Linked DNA regions of Homo sapiens: regions 1 and 3 are each reported to be linked to region 2. Evidence: microRNA targets listed by miRTarBase, many of them from high-throughput screens and not tested one by one. Region 2 holds a microRNA gene; each other region holds the end of a gene's coding sequence. Distances are between the middles of the regions.

What was found. Region 2 holds the annotated microRNA hsa-miR-3922-5p (UCAAGGCCAGAGGUCCCACAGCA, at 2,010-2,032, shown strand). A microRNA usually pairs through its seed, bases 2 to 8, with sites in the 3' UTR of a target mRNA and lowers its output. Matches are read on the target gene's strand: a 7mer-m8 pairs with bases 2 to 8, a 7mer-A1 pairs with bases 2 to 7 and ends in A, and an 8mer does both.
Region 1: miRTarBase lists CLSTN3 as a target of hsa-miR-3922-5p. Seed matches in the 3' UTR shown: 7mer-m8 at 1,958-1,964.
Region 3: miRTarBase lists RNF24 as a target of hsa-miR-3922-5p. Seed matches in the 3' UTR shown: 7mer-m8 at 2,493-2,499.

What each region holds. Positions count from the first base shown.
Region 1 is chr12:7,157,698-7,160,773 of GRCh38, reverse strand. It overlaps CLSTN3 (calsyntenin 3), which reads right to left. Exons shown (of 18, transcript NM_014718.4): 18 at 1,829-2,833. The coding sequence ends at 2,693. Among named protein-coding and RNA genes, the nearest start is that of CLSTN3, 29 kb to the right of the region's middle.
Region 2 is chr12:104,589,636-104,592,711 of GRCh38, forward strand. MIR3922 (microRNA 3922) reads left to right here and starts at 1,998; the gene lies at 1,998-2,081. The region is part of intron 1 of CHST11 (carbohydrate sulfotransferase 11); the gene reads left to right.
Region 3 is chr20:3,931,541-3,934,616 of GRCh38, reverse strand. It overlaps RNF24 (ring finger protein 24), which reads left to right. Exons shown (of 6, transcript NM_001134337.3): 6 at 416-3,076. The coding sequence ends at 554. Among named protein-coding and RNA genes, the nearest start is that of MIR103B2, 16 kb to the right of the region's middle.

The DNA of each region.
Region 1 (3,076 bases), 97 Mb from region 2:
AGCAGAACTCCTGGTAGAGGCAACTCTTGAACCGGGTCTTCAGTGATAGTAGAAGACTGCCAGGCACACAATGGGTAAGGGACATGCCAGGCAGAGGGAACAGTACATGCAGACACAGAGGCGAGAAAGCAGGGTGTGTGTGGGAAGCATATGTGATTTCTGTGACCCCACCGCAGGGGTGCAGGGGTGGTGGCCGCAAAGAGGCCAGAGAAGGAGGAAGGCAGGACCTGCCCCACCTGGTTAAGGGGCTAAGGCGTCAGGACTTGACCTAGGCCTGACAAGGAGGTAGGAAAGTTGCTCTACCGGAGAGTGGTCCAACCAGAGTTGCACTTGAGAAAGGCCACTGAGATCCAGAGTTGAGGACGGGGTGGAGTAGAGCAAGGCATAGGAGACGAGGACAGGTGGAAGGCAGGTGCGAGGCAGGTGGGAGGCAGGTGGGAGGCAGGTGGGAGGACAGGTGGGAGGCAGGTGGGAGGAGAGGTGGGAGGCAGGTGGGAGGCAGGCGGGAGGACAGGTGGGAGGCAGGTGGGAGGAGAGGTGGGAGGACAGGTGGGAGGACAGGTGGGAGGCAGGTGGGAGGCAGGTGGGAGGCTCTTGCCACAGACCAGGCAAAAACACAGAGGGTACAGGTCAAGGCGGCGGCAGCAATAAGGGGAATAGAAAGCAAAAGACCTATTGGAGAGATTTTTAAGGGGTAAGAACGACAGGGTTTCATCACCATTTGGCCATGGGGTTGAGGGAGAGGGAGGAATCTAGACTGACTCTCAGATTTCTGGCATAGGCGAATGGGTGAAAGGTGATAGGGATAGGTCACAGAGAAGTCGGGGAAAGGTGGAGTCTGAGGCACAGGAAGGGCAGGTGGATATGCCAATAGGTAGTTGCAAATGTGAGTTAGGAGAGAGATTCAGGTGGGAGATAAAAATATGGAGGCATCAACATGCAACTGGGAGTTTGCGGCCATGGGCAAGGACAAGGCACCCGGTGGATGTCAGAACGGGCGTCAGGCGGAGCACCCACCTCCACCCCAACTGTGCTACAGGCAGCCGCAGAGAACCAGGAAGAGCCTAAGGATGCCCTACTCTGTCATGCTGCAGGAAGGAACTAAGACTTGGATCCCTGGTATTTCTTGGGCCAGGACAGCACCAGAGGGATGCTCCCACCAGCAGTTCACTCTTCTGAAATAACCCCTTGGGGTTATCATCCTTTATCACCTGGGGCTTAAGTAAGACCTGGGTCAGAGAACTAGTGGCCCAAAAGGCTGCAGAAGGGCCAGACTCTGCCTGCTGTCAGGCCAGGGGCTGGGCCCGAGTGGAGAGGGCGGAGGCCACTAAGCAGCCATGTGAGGCAGCCACAAGGACATGGGCAAGGCAGGCAGACATCCCCTGGGTCTGAGCCTTGGCTAGCAGGAAAGGGTCAGCCTGGGAACAGTCTCCAGATCCCTTTGGTACAAACAGCAGGGTTGCCTGCCTTCTCCCTGGGGCCGCCCAGCAGGGAGCCCATGTGCACAGGCAAAATGTTCCAAGTTGTGGGGCGGGGTTGGCAGCACCCCTGCAAGGCACTGGGCATCTGCCCAGGTGTCCATAGCATTCCCTGAATCTTCTGTACTTTTCCAGGGGGTGCTGAAGGAAGGGAGGCGTGGGAACCATCTGCCCCCAGCTTACTTTCCAGGTGATCTGGCATCCTGGGGACTTACCTGGTCAGGCCCCCAAGATCACCAGCCCTGCCCACCTCACTTCAGCTCTGTGCAGAGACCCAAACAGCCCCTGAGGCCCCAGAGCCTCCACCACACCCACACAGGACCAGGCAGTCAGGAGGCGCCTCACAGAGCTTTTTTTTTTTTTCTGATTGTTTTATTTGAAAACCCTAGGATATGTCCCCTCCCTCACCACACCCAACCCCCCGCCCCTGCCCCAGGACATGACGATGCCTCACACACACACACACACACACATACACACAAGGCCGTGAGCTGCACGCAGGAACATGGGCTGCACTCACGACAACATTGAAAAAATATACATTATATATGTACACCCGGGGCCCCCACGTCCCCTCCCGTCCCCGCAGCCTGGCCACACCAGGTCACGGAGGAGGGGCCGGGGCTGCAGGACCTCAGGACTGCAAGGGCAGGAAGGGAAACAGGACAAGAAAGGAAGGAAGTTGGAAAGGAGGGAGAAATGGGGTCCCCAGACTGAAATGGAAATGAGGTGGGGCGATCATAAGAGAAGCAGGGACGATGGTCCAGCTGAGGGAGCCCTGCAGAGGGGGAAAAGCTTCCCATGGACAGGAGAGAGAAGGGAAGGGGAGAGGAGAGGGTTTCCTTCAATCCCACCCCCAGCCCCAGCCCCAGCCATTGCAATCGTCACCCTCTCCCCAACACAGTGAGTGCTAAGGGGGCAGCTGCCATTGGGGGTAGAAAGGCAGCTGAAGTCCAGCCCACTTTCCAACCCAGCCAGCCCCAGTGCAAGGGGCACACCAGGAGCATGACAGCCCAGAAGTGAGGGATGGGGGGCCGGGGGAGGGGCAGGGCGGACTCCAGAGGGCCCGCTGGGGTTTTGAAATGAAAGGAGGACTGGTTCTGAAGCCTCTCTCCCTCTTGGTCTCTGTGTTCCCAGAAAGTCCTTCTCCCATGTCTGGAGTGTCTGTTTCACCAGGGCAGAATTCCCCCTCTGCGTGGGGAGAGGTGTAGGCCTTAGTAGCGGTGTGGGGGGGTCTCGATGATGCGTCTCTCGTCGCTGCTGGGGGAATCGGCCACCTCCGAGTCACTGCTGTCCTCATCCTCCTGCTGGCCCCCAACAGCCCCCGTCACACAGGACTGCCGATTCTGGTAGGACTGGAGGGCAGGAACAGAGAGGAGAAGGGATCAATGGCCTGCACACATCCCAGCCTCTCTTTCAGGGACCACACTTCCCTCGGTCCCCTTAACCCCTGTGTACCCCCTTCCCTGCCTGAACCTCTCTCCCTCCGGCTCACTGCAGCTCTGCGAACAGCCTCCACCCAGGCCTGCCCCTCCTCAGGAGTCCTCACCGTGTGTGCTCCACAGTCTTGACCCTACAGAACCCCGCTTCCCCAGGCC
Region 2 (3,076 bases):
AACTGCAGTTGTATTATTTCTTGCCTTGAAGAACTTATTCAAGGGTTCTGGTTTGACTACAGAATCAAATGAATGCTTTTTCGGTTTGGCCTCAAATCCTTTTCTGGGATGACTTAAAGTTCCCAGCACTTTGGGAGGCTGAGGCAGGCGGATCACCTGAGGTCAGGAGTTCAAGACCAGCGTGGTCAACATGGTGAAACCCCGTCTCTACGAAAATACAAAAATTAGCTGGGCGTGGTGGCACATGCCTGTAATCCCAGCTACTCGGGAGGCTGAGGCAGGAGAATTGCTTGAATCCGGGAGGAGGAGGCTGCAGTGAGCCAAGATGGCGCCACTGCACTCCAGCCTGGGCAACAAAGCGAGACTCTGTCTCAAAATTAAATAAATAAATAAATAAATAAATGAAGATGCCTCACCCTAGCTGGCCCGTCCCTTGGCTATTAGGTGCCGCATGACCCTTGTAAGTACCTACACCCAGGCCCCTGGCCTCGTTGGCCCCATCTGGCACAGTTTCTCCCCCTCCTCTTCTCCAGATGGCCTGCACGTGCGCTGTCTATGTGCGCACCTGTTCCTCATGTCTAGCTGATCCAGCATCCCCAGACTCTTCCAAGATACAAATCCCCTGGGGTGCTCATCAAGCTTGAAGCTTCCCAGGCCCCTTTGTAGGAGAATCTGATTCAGAAGGGCTGGGAATATATGTTTTTTAAATAAGTACCTCGGATGACTCTTATCAGGAAAGTTTAGAAGACCTTGGACTGGGGTGACTGTATTTCAAAACGGTTTAGTTTCCTGTCTTTTGGGAAAGGCACTTCCATTCATTCATTTATTCATTCAGCCCTGAATTTAGGCCCCTTTTAGGAACCGAGGATATTGTGATAGACAAGACAGTCCAAGTCCTTTTGCTCATGAAACTTAGGGTCTCGTGGTGGCAACAGACAACAGCCAATAAAGCATTTAAGATAAAAAGACAGGAGAGAATCAATGCCTTGAAGAAGCATATGGCAGGCGGGGCGCAGTGGCTCATGCCTGTAATCCCAGCACTTTGGGAGACTGAGGCGGGCAGATCACTTGAAGCCAGGAGTTCAAGACCAGCCTGGCCAACATGGTGAAACCCTGTGTACTTAAAAATGCCAAAAATTAGCTGGACATGGTGGCACACGCCTGTAATCCCAGCTACTTGGGAGGCTGAGGCACAAGAATTGCTCGAACATGGGAGGTGGGGGTTGCAGTGAGCCAATATCGCACCACTTTACTCCAGCCTGGGTGAGAGAACGAGACCCTGTCTTAAAAAAAAAAAAGAATATAGCAAAGAATGGGAGGAACAGGAGAGAGAGGAAGTGAGGCCATGGGAGACAGTGTGTCCAGGGAAGCTCTCTCTGGGGACCTGATGATGCGGTCAGAGGGCAGAGTAAAGAAGAGAACAGTTGTTGGTGTTGGGAGAGGGACTCCAGGCTGACAGAGCAGTGAGTGCAAAGGCCCTGAGGCTCATGCTTGGTTTTTTGGAGAAAGAGCAAGATGACCAGTATGGTGGAGGAGGGGCAGAGGCAGGCGGGGCTATATCATGGGGGGCCTCTGGGCCGTGGAAAGACTTTGGATTTTGTTCTAAGATGGTGGCAGGTCTTTGGAGCAGGAAGGCTGTTATGATCTGATTTACGTTTCTAGAAGATTATTCTGGCCGCTGGTAGAGAATAGAGTAGGGAGGCCAGGGTGGCAGCAGGGATACCAGTTAAGAGGTTTTTGTCATAGCCCAAGGGGAAGGCGATGATGGCTTGTACCAGGGCGGTGAGGACAGAGACATGCTGATGGGTGGGGCATAGCAGACAGAAAAGGGAATTTAAGAAAATTCCTCACTGTTTGGTCACAGCTAGGGGCATGATGGTGGCATCCACTGTGATGGTGAACATTGTGGGAGGGAAATTTTAGCTGTGGAAGCCATGAGTTCTCTTTATCAATGTTTAACATATTCCATTCATAAGCACCCTCAAATTGAACTTAAAGGAAGAGTCAAGTCAAGGCCAGAGGTCCCACAGCAGGGCTGGAAAGCACACCTGTGGGACTTCTGGCCTTGACTTGACTCTTTCCAGATATCTGAGTCAGACGTTTTCAAAGCATGCACCATGACCCACGGGTGTGTTGTAAAATGGATTTAATGAGTTGTGACTAGTAGTTCATAAAAGAACAATAGAAAATGTTAGTTTGTCACACATAGTAAGGATAGTACTTTTAAAATAAAACTTGTCTCGGTTTTCTATATATATTTGTATGTAAATCACATGCAAAAAGAGAAAGGGATGAGGCCAGGAATCAGGAGATCTTCATTTTAGCTGCAACTCGGCCTATAGCCAGCAGTGTGTCCTTGGACAGATCACCTTCTATCCTGCACGTCCATTTCTTTACCTGCAAAATGGGGTTAGGGATGAGGTGGTTTAATCTTTTAATACCTGGCACCTCCTCCCCTCCCCTCCCCTCTTCTCCCCTCCTCTCCCCTCCCATCTCCTCTCCTCCCTTCCCCTTCTCTCCCTTACTCTCCCTTTCTCTCTTCTCCCTTCCCGTCTCTCATGCTCTCAGTGGGTGGGCAGCATACCCCACTGGCCAGGAGGATTATGTTTGAGGTTTGTGTCTTAATCTGTTCAGGGTGCTACAACAAAATACCATAAACTGGGTGGCTTATACACAACAGAAATTTATTCCTCACAGTTCTGGAGGCTGGGAAGTCCAAGACCAAAGCATTGGCAGATTTGGTGTCTGGTGAGGCCCTGCTTTCTGGTTCATAGACAGTCCCTTCTTGCTATGTCCTCACATGGTGGAGGGGGTAAGTGGTCTTTTTTGGGACGTCTTTTATAAGGGCACTAATTCCATTTAAGAGGGCTCTACCCCCATGACCAAATCACCTTCCAAAGTCCCCACCCTCTAAAATGATTATCTTGGGGGTTAATATTTTAACATGAATTTTAGTGGGGACACAAACATCCAGATTATAGCACTTTGCGTCCTGCCATTTCTCTTGCTCAGTCAGAATCAGTTTTGAGGATACTTTCCCTAACCACGTAGATTCATTCTCTTTCCTTCTGTGAAA
Region 3 (3,076 bases), not on the chromosome of region 2:
CACTCTCCTCCCACTTCCTGCAGACATATTAATATTCTTCCTCTTATAATTTTTTGTTTTGTATTTCTGTTAGAAAAATTTATTTTCCTACTTCTCACATCCCTGCTCAGTGTATTTTGTTCTTGTAAGAAGTCATGGGTAACTGAGAGTATCACATACTATCTGTGGCTTCACACGTGGAAGATGGGAGGCTCTGGAAGGAAGAGGGGATTGCTGACCCCTTGGCCTCTCCCCACTCCTTCTCTCTGTCTCTTCCCTCTCTCCAGGGGGTGACATCCGTTCACCACCTAGGAGGGGAGCTCCTTGGACCATACAGCAGACGTTGTCTGGGTGACAGATATGGAGATGTTCAGCAGAACAGCCGTGCCATGAGCATAGGACTGACATCTTCCCCCTGTGGTGTCTCCTTCTGCAGGTGCCTTATTAAGTGGCTGGAGGTTCGTAAAGTGTGTCCCCTGTGCAACATGCCAGTTCTACAGCTGGCCCAGTTGCACAGTAAGCAGGACCGTGGACCCCCTCAGGGGCCCCTTCCTGGGGCAGAGAACATTGTATAGCTTACCGCAAGGATCAGACTGTTGCTGGACACGACGTCTGTGTGGAGCCAGGAGGAACACATGTGGTGTCTGTATGGCTGCTCTCTACCTAGGACACCAGCTGCCACTTCTTTTGCCTCATGAAGAACTCTTGGGCCAGCCAAACTGGGAACCTAGGTGTCTGGGTCTTGTGACAACCAAAGCACTTTGACACTACCCCCTGCCGAGAGAAGAGGAGTGGATGAGCCTGCGGGTTTGCCTCAAGAAACTTCATGAGGGTCTCTTACTAACTCCATTACACTCTCTCTCCTGGAGCCTCATCTCCATGTCAAGCAGGAGGGTAAAGAAGGGAACTAAGAGCAGGTCTTTCAAGCCACACCCCCACCTGCGGATGGATGGGTTTCTCTGTAGGCCATGCAGGCCTTTGTCGCAGCAAACCTTCCCAGCAGCCCTTGAGCCAAGTAAAACCAGCACAACCAGCCACCAGTGGTTGGTGAGGCAGTGCCCACAAGGCTCATGTTGTATGCCTTTGATAAGGCCATCTTGGCTTTGAGTAGCAGTGTTCCTCGTCACCCATTTCCCCCTCAGGATTACAACACCTGCTATCAAATCATCTAAGCTGAAAACATGAGATGCGCTTGGAAAGGCCTAGTCAGAAGCCATTTCCTCTTATCATTTCCCTCTCCTATGCACCAGTAAGGCCCGTCCAGAGCCCCAGCAGGGAGTGGGCCCTGAGTCCACACTGTCCCTGAGTGATCCAGGAGGCTGCCCACATCCCCACATGTGCACTGTGGTTCCAGTGTAGCTGCTGTGAGCCCACTGCCACTGCCTCAGAAGGGAGCCACTGTGAACCTCTCGAGTGGCTCCAAAGAGCAGTGGCTTTTTGAGAATGGCCCATACTTCTGGCCCGGCTGGATGAAGGGAATGCCGACCCTTTGGCCTCTCCCCCTCCTTCCATCTCTTCTCTCTCTTGCCCTATCTCTCTTTCTACTTCAGAAAAAAAAAAAAAAAAAAAAAAAAGCCTGTCATTCACTTTTTAACACTTTATCCCAAATAAGATCCCTGTGTAATTCTGAAGCTGGTGATCCACTTGGAATTGTAGATAGTTTCAGGAAGCTCCTGCAGGGCTGTCCACCGTTGGTGTGTGCCTCAGTATTTGGACTTCCGAAACTGAAAGTGAAAGTGTCTTTATAGGAGAGAAACGCATGCTGCTCTTTGGCTCTTTCTGTCCAACTTTTCTAGAAATGACTCAAAGTCCATTAAGATTTGTGAATATTGTATAAATTAGCTATGGAAAGTAGCAGGTCAGATGGAAAATTCTTTTCCACAGCCCTGCTCTCCGCCTCCCTCCATCTTAGGAGCGCCTGCCTCAATTCCTCGTCAACTGCTTTGCTCCACTCCATCCCACAGGTGTGAGTGGGGGAAGTTTTTCATTAGGAATACAGTCTGCGTGACATGGAGAATGGATGGAGGGAGCTTTGCTACTCTGCTCTTGGCATGACTCCAGGATTTTTTTCTGGAATCCAACCTCTGTCCTCTTAGGAGAAGGAACCTGTCCTTGGTTCAGATGGCTGGGCATGAGGAGGAAAATTTCCATTAGTGTAGAACAGTGCTGGACAGAATCCGGTTTGGAAAATTACAAATCCAGTTGGTCAAAATAGGCCATTTCCTATGTGTGACCTATTCGTGGTATGCCAACTGGACTGCTTCCTAAACAGGACGAGGAAAGTGAGGAATATTTTTATATGAAAGCCTTAGCCTGTCTGGCACCCATGAAAAAAACTATTTATGCACTCCTACTTTCACCGTCTTTTTGCATTCTCTATTTGTAGCACAACAGAGTTGAATGCCACAAAACACCCCGTTTATAGTGAGCTGTTTTCAGTGACCAATATCAGAAGGAGGCTTGCTTCTGGACTAGCCTCACTAATTGCCAGCAGCCACCATTTTCCATGGAATGGCCTTGGGACAGATGTCACCTCTGTTATGGGGCTCTAATAGGAAAGAGAATGTTTTTTCCCTTCCTATGATCAATACTGCAAATTATTGCTGCTCACAGCTTTTATAGGATTCTCCCAACTGAAAGTTGCAGGCTTTTTCTGTCCCTGTGCATCAGTACTAACAAAAGACAGCCTCACCAAGTCTGTATATTTGAACAGAGGCAAGTTAATTCATCCCCCCGTGTCAGAGCCACAGGCATGTTGAGGGGGTTGATACGTAGCACTGGACCAGGGCGCAAAGCCCAGATAGTTCCAGCCATGAGAGGAGAGCACAAGAATGCTCTGCACTCTGCACTCAGCACCACCTTGGGTCTGCTTTGCCCAGATGAGGGACCACTAACAACCTTCTCAGCACATGTGAATGTGGACTGGTTTTAAAATGCATTCATTCTGCTAGGATTGGGCTGGAAGCTGGAACAGTGAGAGTACTTTTTCTGCTCCTAGTCATCTCCCTTTCTCAGCGTGACATCCTCCTGCAGCAAGCCTAGTATCACTAGCAGTAGTTCCTGCGACTCTTAGCAACACAACCCGAATATTTGCTCC